4 linked regions of the Homo sapiens genome follow. The protein of the gene in region 2 interacts with the protein of the main gene of each other region in a pairwise test. Each region holds a gene or a part of one and is shown on either strand. Other genes may lie near its edges.

Region 1 (3,500 bases), on a different chromosome or scaffold from region 2:
AAATCAAAGTGGCCATTTTGGACATGTCACTTTAATTTCCTGGGCCTCAGATTTCTCATAAAAACTAGGAACTTGGACTATTTGATGTCTAAAGTGCCTTTCTGCTCAAGCATTTTATAAATCTCCAATAAATTCCTGCTAAAGAAATGTTATTTTTTATAAGATTTCTCGATTTTACTTAGGAAGTAAAGATACCAGAAAGTGTCAAACTCAGCATGAGCTTAGAGTTCTGTCCCTGGCACCTCAGTGGTTTGTGCTAACTTGGCCTATTGTTCCTCCTCTTTGTGCTTTAAATTACTCCACCCCAGCATAATGTTTCTCCCATTTCACAGCAGAATTATGACCCTTTACTGTTTTATTTATTTATTTGAGATGGAGTTTGGCTCTTGTTGCCCAGGCTGGAGTACAGTAGTGCGATCTCAGCTCACTGCAACTTCCGTCTCCCGGGTTCAAGCCATTCTCCTGCCTCAGCCTCCCGAGTAGGTGGGATTACAAGTGCCTGCCACCATACCCAGCTAATTGTATTTTTAGTAGAGACAGGGTTTTGCCATGTTGGCCAGGCTGGTCTCGAACTCCTGACCTCAAGTGATCCACCTGCCTCGGCTTCCCAAAGTGCTGGGATTACAGGCGTGAGCCACTGCGCCCAGCAACCCTTTACTGTTTTTAACACCCTCCAAGTGGATGTCTCCCTATCCTACTTGTGTCCTTTCTGATGTATCCCTTTTTTAGGTAGAGTTATCCATGGAAGACATTGAAACCATCCTGAATACACTCATTTATGATGGAAAAGTGGAGATGACGATTATTGCTGCAAAAGAAGGCACAGTTGGCAGTGTAGATGGACACATGAAACTGTACAGGGCAGTCAATCCAATCATCCCTCCCACAGGTTTGGTCCGGGCACCCTGTGGACTCTGCCCGGTGAGTTAAAGTGGCTTCACTTTACACTTGACTGCCCACGGGTGCAAGTGCCACATTAAGAAACAGAGCAAGCACAGCCCAGTTTTCTCAGACTCTTAGGGTTGACCAAGAGCTATTCAAACCTCCATGAAACCTTGATGAACAGACCTTTAATGAACACATCATTCCTTTACTTTTTTTTTTTTTTTTTTTTTTGAGACGGAGTCTCACTCTATCACCGAGGCTGGAGTGCAGTGGCACAATCTTGACTCATTGCAACCTCCAACTCCCGGGTTCAAGCAGCTCTCCTGCCTCAGCCACCTGAGTACCTGAGATTATAGGCACCCACCACCATGCCCAGCTAATTTTTTTTATTTTTAGTGGAGACGGGGTTTCACCATGTTGGCCAGGCTGGTCTCGAACTCCTGACCTCAGGTGATCCCCTCAGCCTCCCAAAGTGCTGAGATTACAGGCATGTGCCCCTGTACCTGGCCCCCTGCTTTACATTCTTTCTTGGAACAACCACATTAAGGATATTTACGTTTTCTGCTCTTGGCCTTGAAATGGACACTTTTTGATGAGGGCTAATCATTTCACCTAAATAGGGCAGAAAATGAGATTTGTTGAGAACCTACCTTGGGCCAGATATGTCCTTGATGATTTCCATAGGCGGTCTCATTTAATCCTCCTTACATTCTTGAAGCTAGTGGTGTTATTTCCCCTTAAAAGTGAGGGAGCTTAGGCTTAGGAAGACATAGGGGCATACAGCTTAGAAGTAACCGGGATTCAAACCCAGAGATCATGTCTTTCCCCTGCAGCATGCCCCAGCACTCCTCCTTCATTCATTCCCAAATATTGTAAGTGCCAACTCTATGCTCTAGGCACTAAGGATACAAGAGAAAGCAAGAGACACTGTCCCAGTCCTCATGGCATTTATAGATGAGCCTGTGTGTGTTTTATTTCATTATACCAACCTTTGTCTATATGCCTAAGCTCTCTATGCCTTGGTTTCAGTCCCTAGACAAAAGGCTAACATATTAGGAATTCTGTTTTGCACCCTTCACAAAAAGGTAGCTAAACATGAAACATTTGGTTAATCAAAATTAAGTCATTCATATGTATAGGTCTCCCTGCCCATATTCCTGTGTTACCTGGTGATAGCCTTTTGCCCAGCAGACAGGTGAGCATGGTCATCTTAATGCCACAGTAAAAAAAGCCTCTCTACTACTCCTAACTTGATGATCACAAAGCAGGCCCTATTATAGTATGTTCTTCCCGCTCCCCCCTCGCCCCCCGAGATGGAGTCTTGCTGTCGCCCAGGCTGGAGTGCAGTGGCACGATCTTGGCTCACTACAACCTCTGCCTCCCAGGTTCAAGCAATTCTCCTGCCTCAGCCTCCCGAGTAGCTGGGATTACAGGTGCCTGCCACCACGCTCAGCTAATTTTTGTATTCTTAGTAGAGACGGGGTTTCACCATGTTAGCCAGGATGGTCTTGACCACCCACCTCGGCCTCCCAAAGTGCTGGGATTACAGGTGTGAGCCACTGCGTCCGGCTATAATATGTTCTTAAGTACAGTCCTAGTCCCTTTCAGTTTGAAAGTTTTGTTTTTAATCTTGCTTTAAATAAGTGGTTGGGTCTTAGATATTTTAAAACTTTAATTTGAATATAATTTTTTTTTCTTTTTTAAAGGTTTTTGATGACTGCCACGAAGGTGGTGAGATTTCACCATCTAACTGTATTTACATGACAGAGTGGCTCGAATTTTAATAGAGAGCTATGAACTTTATTGACATTTTGCAAATGAAGTTACTTAGGGAGCAGATAATTTAATTCATGATGGAACACGAAATCTCCTTGAAAGCAAACTTCACAATAATGGACGTAGACTTGCTGCTATGAAAACATATTTTTTTTATTTATGAAGACTAAATTTATATTGGTAAAATAGCCAGTAGAATATGAAAGAAATAAGGTTAGTAGTGAAATTCATTCTTCAATAAATAAAACACTTTGAAACTCCGGAGGACCACATCTTTCAAGACTTCTGATGGGTCAAGGAAAAAGATGCCAACATACCCGTATTTACCAAGTACTATGATAATGGCTAGAGTATAAAAATGTTCTTTTTAAAGTTATTTATTAAGTTCTTCATTGGAAGTTTTTTTTTATATCTGGTTCACTACCACCATTTTCTGTTTCCTACTTTCTCAGTGGTTTCATTGAAAAGAAATTAGAAGGGGTTAAAGGCAGGAATAGCAAAGAGTGCAAACTTGGGGTATGACTGGGGGAGAGTGGAACATGCCTTTTCCGCACAATATTAATTCCTTTTTGTATCAGAAATGTTCTTTTAGGAGATTATGCTACCATACTTACTTCAAACCCAATGACTACTGTCAAGGACATATTTTCAGTACATAAATACTATCATTTTCATTCTAAAGAATATTTTCACTGTTCCTTCTTTCTTAAAGTCTTATGTTTCACTCTTTAACTCAAATGTATTCTTTGTTAGAATTTACCCTAGATTCTTATTTAATGTCTGCAGTAGACTGAATGTTTGTGTGCCCCCAGAATTCTAATGTTGAAATCTCATTTCCA
Region 2 (3,500 bases):
TCCCAAACAAGGAAATTATTGCCCTTCTCTCCTGCAAAGATCCCTGTTTTGCCTGGGGGAGGAAGAGGGAATTGTCAGAATATAATTTCAGGAATTTCAGGAGCTGTGCTTTGGTTCATCTGCTGCTGAGGTAGAGATCACCAAAGTCTCTGTGGAGGGCAAAAGGATCAGATAAGAAAGAAGTCACTCCTCATAGATTGAGAAATCTGAAACCTTAGGAATTCTTGCTGATGAATTTTATTCCCTTCTAGTCTAAGAAACCTTTCTTTCTTCCCAGCGAGAGACATATAGAATAAATCACTAACGGCGCAAACAATATTTGAGATAAATGCGGTTGCCAGATAGTTTCCTAGGAGTTCTGCAGAGGCATGTGATGACTGCAAACAGCTGAGTCTGTATTTTAATTCAGTGGAATATATTCAGACTCCTCTGGGAGCTCTAACATGTTGTCTGTAGCCAAGGGCTCAATGCTACAGTAATAGTTTTGTGTGCGTGTGTACGTGTTCTTCAGAAATTAAGCCATTTCTTCAAAATTTCAGTTTAGTACAAACAGTAAGCCCAGGTCAAAAATGTTCACCAAGACATTAGCAAACTCTAATGGAGGGTTAGTTTTCCAGGCATTCAGAACACAGTTTCTAAACGTGGTTGAGAAAAATTACCTTGGATGTATGGAGCATCATTGAACAATGACCTTTCAGGTTAATTAAGAAAGCTGAAGCCCCAGAGGAATCTTGAGCAATTTTTTGTTGTTGCCTGAAGGAACCAAAGAATAAAAATGTAGTGGGAATATTTGGAAAGGGGATGATTTTTCAAGCTTGTAAAAAATGAAGACCAGCCACCAGAAGAAAATGCTTTTATGTGAATTCAAAGAGAAATGCTTTTTTATTTTAAGTAAAATTTAGGTCCTCAGACTTCTTAGCTTTTCTATAAATTGGCTTTTGGTTATCCACGTTAAGCCCTTTATTTGCTCCTGTTTAATATAGGAACAAATGGTGAAATAAAGAGGAAAATGGGTCCATTCTATGAGAATGTATGTGCAGTGGAAGCATTTCTTCTTTTAGTTTTCTATATAAAAATATTTACTCACACTGTATACTAAGTAGTTTAATCATGGCAGGTGTCTAATGACTTTTTTTTTCCCCAGCTGACTCAGGTGTTGACACCTTGGCAGTGTTTATGGCCAGCAGCGGAACTACAGACGTCACAAATCGGAACAGCCCAGCCACACCACCAAACACCCTTAACCTCCGATCCTCCCACAATGAACTGTTGAACGCTGAAATAAAACACACAGAAACCAAGAACAGCACACCTCCCAAATGCAGGAAAAAATATGCACTAACTAACATCCAGGCGGCCATGGGCCTCTCGGATCCAGCTGCACAGCCCCTGCTGGGAAATGGCTCTGCCAACATCAAGCTGGTGAAAAATGGGGAGAACCAGCTCCGTAAGGCTGCAGAGCAAGGGCAGCAGGACCCCAACAAAAACCTGAGCCCCACTGCAGTCATCAACATAACTTCTGAGAAGTTAGAGGGTAAAGAGCCCCACCCACAGGATTCCTCGAGCTGTGAGATTTTACCCTCCCAGCCCAGGAGAACTAAGAGCTTCCTAAATTACTATGCAGATCTGGAAACCTCAGCCAGAGAACTAGAGCAGAACCGAGGCAATCACCATGGGACTGCGGAAGAGAAATCCCAGCCAGTCCAGGGCCAGGCCTCCACCATCATTGGGAATGGCGATTTGCTGCTGCAGAAACCAAACAGACCCCAGTCCAGCCCTGAAGACGGCCAAGTAGCCACAGTGTCATCCAGCCCAGAAACCAAGAAGGATCATCCGAAAACAGGGGCCAAAACCGACTGTGCACTGCACCGGATCCAGAACCTGGCACCGAGCGATGAGGAGTCCAGCTGGACAACGTTGTCCCAAGACAGTGCCTCACCCAGCTCCCCGGATGAAACAGGTACCCCTGGGGAAGGCGTAGCCTCAGCTGGCACTTTTTTTTTTTTATCTTTTCAACTATTGGAGTAAATCTCTAGACTGACCAAAAATGTCCATTATGCAGAGAGGAACGTGAGCCTCTTGCGGTAAAATTGGGCAATTTATTTGCAAAATATTACTGCATTCCTCAACCATATTTTAGGTCAGTTTCATTTTGGATCGTGCATAAAGTTGTTTGTTCTGGGAAGCATTTTTGTAAAATAAACAGATCCTTGGTGTTAAGTACAGTAAAATATCATATATTTAGAAATTACACTTCCAGTGCATAGGTAGATCATTTCTATATGCTATCTAGAAATACTGGGTTTTGGTAAGCAAAATAATAAAAGAAACAAAGTTGTTGGGGGAAGGATATAACCCAATTAAGAGAACTATTTTAAAGTCCTCAAAATAACTTATTTATGGTGAAGCGCATAAAAAGTTAAAACATTAGCCATCTGTTCATTAAAGGCATTTCTCTTTTTGACATTTACTGAGGAGTGTTTTATTAGCCTTAAGTAATATTTAAAAGTGGGAAAATCGTATTTCTTGAAAAATATATTCAGAAGTTTAGACTTTTAACTAGTCTAATTGAGACCAGTCTTTCTGGACTTTTGTCTATATTTGTAATATTTTGGATTTGTCGGAGGTGTTAAAATGGTGACAGAAATGAACAGGATCCTAAAAGTCAGCTACTTTAAATATCATTTTCTTATAGCTCCCACTATACTGATTCTAAGATTGAAAAATGTGGAGAACCTTATTGTATCTGAATTCAGCGTAAACAAGCACTCAGAAAGGCTAATTTTTTAAAAGTAGTCCAGCAGTTCCCCTAGTGGGTCCCAGGGCTGTGTTAATATAGATATAACAAAGAAAATAGATAGAACCACCAGGGAAGGAAATCACATTTTTACAATCGATAAGGTAGATAAATTACAAGGACTAAAGATAAGGAAAAGAGGAGTTAAGACATTAACTTGTTTAAGAAGAAAAAAAAAGTAGCGTTTTTGAAGTGCCCTTTAAAAATCCCAGTACTTTCAATGATGCATACTACTGTGGAATGTGGCAGTAGGGAGGTTGAGATGAGGCCATTTCATCTCATAACTGTCTGGCCCTGCACATTATTGGAATCATAATTATGTTCAGTAATGTCCCTGAGTTCACAGCTCTCTATCCTTTTTACCCATTTAGAGAATTCATATCCTGAAGCTGATAGACATTGTCACCTGCTGGAGTTTGAATCTATTAATACATGAAAGACTCCTTGCACATCTTTCAGCCAAGCTCTACTTCCTGTGTTTGGCGTTTACTGACACCTTGCTGTCTCCCTCTGGTCATGGCACCCTTTCTGCTGCTCTTCCTGGTATAGCCGGTTCTGTTGTAGTTAAGTTTTAAACTAACCTAAAGTTTTGTTCAGGCACAGTGGCTCATGCCTGTAATCCCAGCACTTTGGGAGGCTGAGGCAAGAGGATCACCTGAGCCCACAAGTTCAAGACCAGTAAGACCCCATCTCTCCTCCTCCA
Region 3 (3,500 bases), on a different chromosome or scaffold from region 2:
TGTCCTAAAAATAACAATTGCTACCATTTATTGAGTTTTACTGTGTGCCAGCCAAAATGCTAGGCAATTTACGTAAGGATTTTTATGAAGGTTAAATGAAATAATTTATTAAGTATTTGTTATTTCTGTTTTACAAATGAGGGAACTGAGATTTAATTTAGGGAGTTTCAGTAATTACCAAGATCACACAGTAGAAGAGCCAGGATTTGAATTTTGTTTGATACTAAAGTTTGTGCTCCTAAAACCACTATAGTCACAATACTGTATAATTATTTTTGGAAACTTTGGTTAAGAACTAAAACTATCTAGGAATATTGTATCCTGGGCTTTCATATACCAGCAGCATTTGGGTTGATATTAGCTGATTGGGAAGAGATCTATTGTAGATTTTTTAAAAATCTATTTTTAATGAACAATTATTGTTTATTTTGCTTGAAAGAGTGAACAGAGAGATCTGGAAATGTTAACATTTATTGACATAGAAAGATATTTGTAATACGTGAAGAAGGTAGATTATAAACTGCAGAGTATCAACCTTTAAAAAACAATCTGTACATGTAAGCAACAAAGAAAAATGTTAAGTCTACATTGTGGCGGCTCTCACCCGTGGTTACCCTTGGAATCAGTTGTGGAGACATCAGAAAATTATTGTTAAAAGTTTTAAAGTTACTGTAATTTATTCATAAATTAGAATTATTTTCCCTTGATATGATTGAATCAGATAGTAGAATATTTTACAATTATATTCCAGATATATGCTACTATACCATTAGAAAGACATTTATGCTTTTAAAAAAAAATCTGTACTAAAACTTTAAAATTATTAAAGACTTTTTTTTAATATGTTAGACATCTTAATTATAAATAACCAGATGAGGCAGCTTCCTTTTTTCATAATGCTTAATTTCTTTCTTTTCCCATTCTAGGAGCTACAGCGGACTAAGCAAGAAGTCCTCTCTTTGCGAAGAGAGAATTCTACACTAGATGTTGAATGCCACGAGAAAGAAAAGCACGTTAATCAGCTACAAACAAAAGTGGCAGTTTTAGAACAGGAAATCAAGGATAAGGACCAGCTTGTTTTAAGAACAAAAGAGGCATTTGATACAATCCAGGAACAAAAGGTCTACTTTTAAATTTTTCTCAGAAATTGATAATCATATTTATAAGTAAACACAAATGCCCTAATTATTCATGTTTTTAAAAAATATATCAGGTGGTTTTAGAAGAAAATGGTGAGAAAAATCAAGTACAACTAGGAAAGCTTGAAGCTACAATAAAATCATTATCTGCAGAACTTCTGAAGGTTTGTTTTAAAAATTTTATAGACTAGTATTTCATTAAATTACATAGAAATATACATATGAAGCTCTTTTATAGGCAAATGAAATTATCAAGAAGTTACAAGGGGATCTGAAAACTTTAATGGGTAAGTTGAAATTGAAGAATACAGTTACTATTCAGCAAGAAAAACTCTTGGCTGAGAAGGAGGAAAAATTACAAAAGGAACAAAAGGAATTACAAGATGTTGGACAGTCTCTTCGAATTAAAGAGCAAGAGGTAGTTAATATTTTAAATTTTTATGTTGTAACTAAATTTTTTCCTCGTTTTAAAAATTTATGCTTTGTTACATTAACAAATGGCTTTGGTCTTGTTTTTTTTTTTAACAAAAGAACATGACTAGATTGAGTAGATGGTAATAACCTGTTTCAGTTTGGAAAGTTAGTTATCATGATTCAGATACCTTGATTGCTCATGTATGTCTATGTTTGTATACACATGTAAATATTTTATTACATAATTGAGCTAATTCCTTTATTCTCATTTAATAATAGTAGTAGTAACCATTTATGTAATTATTTAGTTAATAATAATACATTCTTCAGTTTTTATTTAACCTTTATTTTGCTTGACTTATTGTGATGATTGATATATTTCAGGTATGCAAATTACAAGAACAATTAGAAGCTACAGTTAAAAAACTTGAAGAAAGCAAACAACTTCTAAAAAATAATGAAAAGTGTAAGTATGTTACGTGTTAATGTAAATGAGGTTTGTAGTTTTATTCTTTTATTTTTTTGAGACACGGTCTCACTCTGTCACCGAGGCTGGAGTGCAGTGGCATGATCTCAGCTCACTGCAGCCTCCACCACTTTGGTTCAAGTTATCCTCCCGCCTCAGCCCCCCAAGTAGCTGGGACTAAGGTGTGCACCACCACACTCAGCTAATTTTGTGGGTTTTTTTTGTAGAGACGAGATTTTATCATGTTGCCCAGGCTGGTCTTGAACTCCTGAGCTCAAGTGATCCACCCGCCTTGGCCTCCCAGATTGCTGCGTTTAGGTTTACAGGTGTTAGCCATCGTGCTCGGCTGTAGTTTTATTCTTAACCTGAAAATTTTATTCGAATTCATAAAAGTAGACATTGGCCAATATATAAGTAATTTCTGCTTTAAATATACTGTCTTAATGCCTTTTCTATAATAAATTTATATCATCTGCCCAGTAAAAGAGTTATCATCTTTATAAAGAAAACCATATCCCATAGGTCAGTAACCCACAATTAAAACTGTTGAAAATGTTGACTGTAATTTATTGTTTAAATTCTTCATTATTCCTTTTTTTAATAGCTGTGTTTACCTAATAATAACAATATGAATTGTTTGAAAACAAAACATAAAAATAAGATTTTAACTAACATTTTCTCAGTTTATACTACTGGGTATCATACATAAGATTGTGAATTTTAAGTAAACTGTAAGATATTCTAGAAGTGAAATCTTTCAAAGAGTTGCTTGACTAGCAGAAATATGTGCTTCGGAAAGTAATACAATAAGGAGTCCTATGTGGCAGCTTCTAAAATAAGAAACTTTAATGACAAAAATTTAGGTGAACCTATATTGCTCTCCTGTGATGTCAGGTAGTTGTAAAAACTTATAATTTAAAAATCTTAATATAATTTTTAAATGTTTAAGATGATTAGAAAAATAAACAGTCAATATTCTTTACCTTGCTTCTTGTTCTTTTATTTAAGTAATCACGTGGTTAAATAAAGAACTAAATGAAAATCAGCTAGTGAGAAAGCAAGATGTATTGGGACCTTCTACTACTCCGCCTGCACATTCCAGCAGCAACACAATCAGAAGTGGAATTTCTCCTAACCTGAATGTGGTAAGATTTAAAACAAGATGTGAGTGATCTTAGTGAATTTCCTGAAACAAAAGTATTTCCAGATTGTTAGGAAGTTTCCATGATTTAAGGTGCTGATACCAATACAAAGTGGAGTCCTACAATTGCACTGAAATAGAGTTTAAGTTGCCCCTGGAAGTGGAACAAAGGCACACTTGCTCTGAACAGAGGCTGAGTTTCAAGAGCACATTTCTTTTTTTTGTTTTGTTTTGTTTTTTTTTTGAGATGGAGTCTCGCTCTGTCGCTCAGGCTGGAGTGCAGTGGCGCGATCTCGGCTCACTGCAAGCTCCGCCTCCCGGGTTCACACCATTCTCCTGC
Region 4 (3,500 bases), on a different chromosome or scaffold from region 2:
CACCTGGGACTCCCAAAGTGCTGGGATTACAGGCGTGAGCCACCGCGCCTGGCCTATTTCACTTTTATAAAAAAGAAAAAAAAAGATGGTTGTGAATTGCTAAATTTATTTCCCAACTCATGTATGGACACTGCACACGTTCACCCAGCTCATCTGACAGGAGGATAGACTGGCGGCAAATCAGCAGTAGGTCTCTTGACTACCAGTTTAGTACTCTTGCGAGGGCACCATTGCCACGGTAAGCATATTTATCAGATTCTTCAGGAGGTGCATTTGTGTGTCTTGGTTATTCTGCTGACATAAGAGTTACCTAATTCTGAAGCCAATCAGCCCCTCAACCACTTTCCTCTTGCTGTTCAGTATGGTTCTTCTGCTCTTACTTGCCTGGAGCAAGTTCTTATGCTATTCTCTCTTCTTTTACAGCTTAATTCATGTCAGTGCCATGGCAGGAATGCCTTCCATCCCATGTGTCCATTCTTCTGTTACTGGGTCAGACTCTGTTTTCCACCAGCCATCCCCCATGTCTTCTTTGGGAATCTTTATCTTTCCTGCCCTCCTAGTTAACCACACTCCCCAGGACACTGATTGGAGAGCTTGCCTTGTTCTGAGTCATCTTCATCTCTGTACTTAGATTATTCCCCCAGGAGGACTGTAAGGTGCAGTGCCCTGCAGGCCCCAAAGCCCCACACTCAGGACTTTGCCCCACTCTTCTGCTCACATCGTCTTTTGTATCTGCCCTTCTCCTGTGCTAGGAACAATGGATCCTGACTGGATCTTAATTGGATTAGGAGACCCTTTGTGTTCCCTGTGCACCTGGTACTCAGCCCCTTTGCTTGAGTTATCACAGTGTTGCTGTATCTGTTATTTAACTGTATCTCCACTAAATTGGAAGATCTCTGAGGGCAGGGACACTATGTCTTCTCTATTCCTGACAGTTGGCAAAATGTCTTAAAATAATAGGTAGTCATTGGTATTTGTTGAACGAATTGCACATAATGGGCGCCCCATAAATAAGTGGGGTAAAGTTAATTTTTCCTAAGTTGGACTCTTACAAGTACTTGGATCTTATTTTATCTTCGGGGTTTAATATCCATGGGTACAACCATAGACAAAAAAAAAAGGGCCAGATGTATTGGCTTGAGGCCTCATCCACTTTGTATTCATTGTATTGGTGTTCTTGTGACACTGAAATGTCTGTATTGAAGAGAAGAACAATACTAACCCATCCTTTGTATGTCTCTACATCTTTTATCCATTACCTATTTGTGCCAGCTCCTGCGCATGCTAGAGTGAGCTGTCCAGCCCTTGAAACAGATGTAAATACTACCAGTGTGCAGACCCCTCATGCATGGATAAAGACAGTGAATCCCCCCAGATGATGAGTATTAAGGTGGGCACGTAATCCAGAGTAAGGGTTTCAGGAGGAAGTAGATTTGGTAAGAAAGGTGGTTGTTGCCGTTTGGCCAATAGATGATTATTTTAAACTCTTGAAAAGTTACTGAAAAGAGTGTAGCGGAGAGGCAGGGTTTGAAGGAGCCAGGAAGAGTGGCATGAACAATGAGGAGAGCTCATTGAGCATGATGGAGAGCCCCAAGATCAAAACTTGTTTTACGTTTGCATTACTGGTAAGAAATATAAGTATGTTGTGAATACAAACAAGTGAGGGAATGAATTGAAATCACTTAGACATATCTGTGGAAAAGACACTGAAAATCAGGGTCACCTTATTGGAGTGTATTGTTGTCACTTGAGTTGGGGAAGTAAAGTGATTAATCTGTGCAGGAATGGCTGCCTATTGGTTAAGGTGGGAGTAGGCAGATTCAGCCTCCTCAACACACATCCTTCCAGGGGATCCTCTTAGGGCTGAACAGTTTTAGACTGTGTGTGCACAAGTGGCACCATGACTCAAGAGACAGTGAATCAGACTGATTTGAAACTATAAACCCAAACAAGCAAATAGCCCGAAGAATGAGGTGTAAAGGAGGCAGAGTATTTTAGCTGAAATATTTTAATCTGGAGGAACAGGAGAGTGGGACTCTCCTGTTTGGACATTTGTAACTTAGGTGTCTGCTGATGCCATCCACAGAAGTCGTCTTTGATGCTTCTTTTTGATGCTGGTGACAAAAGCTGTGGAGGAGAGAGGCGTTTGGTAATGTGGGCAGAGAAACGTTGATACAGTCAGAGAAAGCAGATGCAGAGGGAAGAAGATAAATAAGACTCTTCAGTGCCTTTAGTACAAAAGGCAAATTACAAAAGACTTAATATTTCATTTATTCCTTCATTTGACCAGTAAACCATTAAACATAGGCTGGGTGTGGCGGCTCATACCTGTAAACCCAGCAATTTGGGAGGCCTAGGCAGGAGGATCACTTGAGCCCAGGAGTTCAAGACCAGCCTGGGCAACATAGTTGGGACCCCCATCTCTACAAAAAATTTTTAAAAGTAGCCAGGTGTGGTGGTGTGTGCCTGTAGTTCCAGCTACCCAGGAGGCTGAGGTGGGAGGATCGTCTGAGCCCCAAAGTTTGAGACTGCAGTGAGCTGTGATTGCGCCACTGCTCTCTAGCCTGGGCAACAGAGTGAGATCCTGTCTCAAAAAACAAAACAAACAAAAAACCCCAAACTGTTAAACACACATTTATTTATGCTCTGCTTGTGCCAGACCGTGTACTACGTACTCTTGAAGTATCGTTAATCCCAAGCTGTTTCTTTTTGTTGTAAAAGGATGGATAGATTTCAGAGGCATTTTGAATACGTAACTATGATTTGCTGTTTTATAACTTTTGTGTCGGTGATTCACAGGATCCATAATTGGAAAATCCATGTCACAGCAAAGCTGTAGTGGCATCCTCTCAGGTCGTGGGACCCTTGAAAAACACCTTCTGTTGGTTGTGAATGGTGTTCACAGCCAGCAGTCTCAGGGTGGAATTCTCCTCCAGTAGCAAGTTACTTTCCTGGGCATGTTGAAGTTAATAACCTAACTTCTTTGTTCTCAGTGTTCTCAGAGGGAATACTATGATGCCACTAAGGGAAGAAAGCTTAGAGTTTCTGCTTGAGTTTGACTGATTAGGGAACAGAAAAACAGAAATATGTCGGCCGCGGTGGCTCACAGCTGTAATCCCAGCACTTTGGGAGGCTGAGACGGGCGGATCATTTGAGGTCAGGAGTTTGAGACTAGCCTGGCCAACATGGTGAAACCCCATCTCTACTAAAAATACACAAATTAGCTGGTCGTGGTGGCAGGCACCTATAATCCCACCTACTCAAGAGGCCGAGGCATGAGAATGGCTTGAACCCGGGAGGCAGAGGTTGCAGTGAGCCAAGATTATGCCACTGCACTCCAGCCTGGGCGACAGAGCGAGACTCCATCTCAAAAAAAAAAAAAACAAATGTTATGAATACTGTTTGACATAAGGGGAAAGCACAATGATATTTCTACAAAGGAAATAGAATGTTGGCTTGCAATTCAAGGCAGCCAGTATGTGAACAGGAAGAATGTAACT

Evidence for each region. The genes of interacting proteins can lie anywhere in the genome.
Region 1: the proteins of APBB2 (region 2) and POLR3F interact in binary tests that used the Homo sapiens proteins (3 or more experiments, as listed by UniProt).
Region 3: the proteins of APBB2 (region 2) and SASS6 interact in binary tests that used the Homo sapiens proteins (3 or more experiments, as listed by UniProt).
Region 4: the proteins of APBB2 (region 2) and ABHD17C interact in binary tests that used the Homo sapiens proteins (3 or more experiments, as listed by UniProt).

The regions. Positions count from the first base shown.
Region 1 is NC_000020.11:18,480,890-18,484,389, forward strand, and holds part of POLR3F (DNA-directed RNA polymerase III subunit RPC6), read left to right. Parts: intron 1-729; coding exon 730-921; intron 922-2,591; coding exon 2,592-2,669; 3' UTR 2,670-3,500. UniProt on the Homo sapiens protein: DNA-dependent RNA polymerase catalyzes the transcription of DNA into RNA using the four ribonucleoside triphosphates as substrates.
Region 2 is NC_000004.12:41,012,043-41,015,542, reverse strand, and holds part of APBB2 (amyloid beta precursor protein binding family B member 2), read left to right. Parts: intron 1-1,144; coding exon 1,145-1,960; intron 1,961-3,500. UniProt on the Homo sapiens protein: Plays a role in the maintenance of lens transparency, and may also play a role in muscle cell strength. Involved in hippocampal neurite branching and neuromuscular junction formation, as a result plays a role in spatial memory functioning.
Region 3 is NC_000001.11:100,105,431-100,108,930, reverse strand, and holds part of SASS6 (spindle assembly abnormal protein 6 homolog), read left to right. Parts: intron 1-926; coding exon 927-1,121; intron 1,122-1,213; coding exon 1,214-1,303; intron 1,304-1,377; coding exon 1,378-1,557; intron 1,558-1,937; coding exon 1,938-2,019; intron 2,020-3,027; coding exon 3,028-3,164; intron 3,165-3,500.
Region 4 is NC_000015.10:80,698,310-80,701,809, forward strand, and holds part of ABHD17C (alpha/beta hydrolase domain-containing protein 17C), read left to right. Parts: intron 1-3,500. UniProt on the Homo sapiens protein: Hydrolyzes fatty acids from S-acylated cysteine residues in proteins. Has depalmitoylating activity towards NRAS and DLG4/PSD95.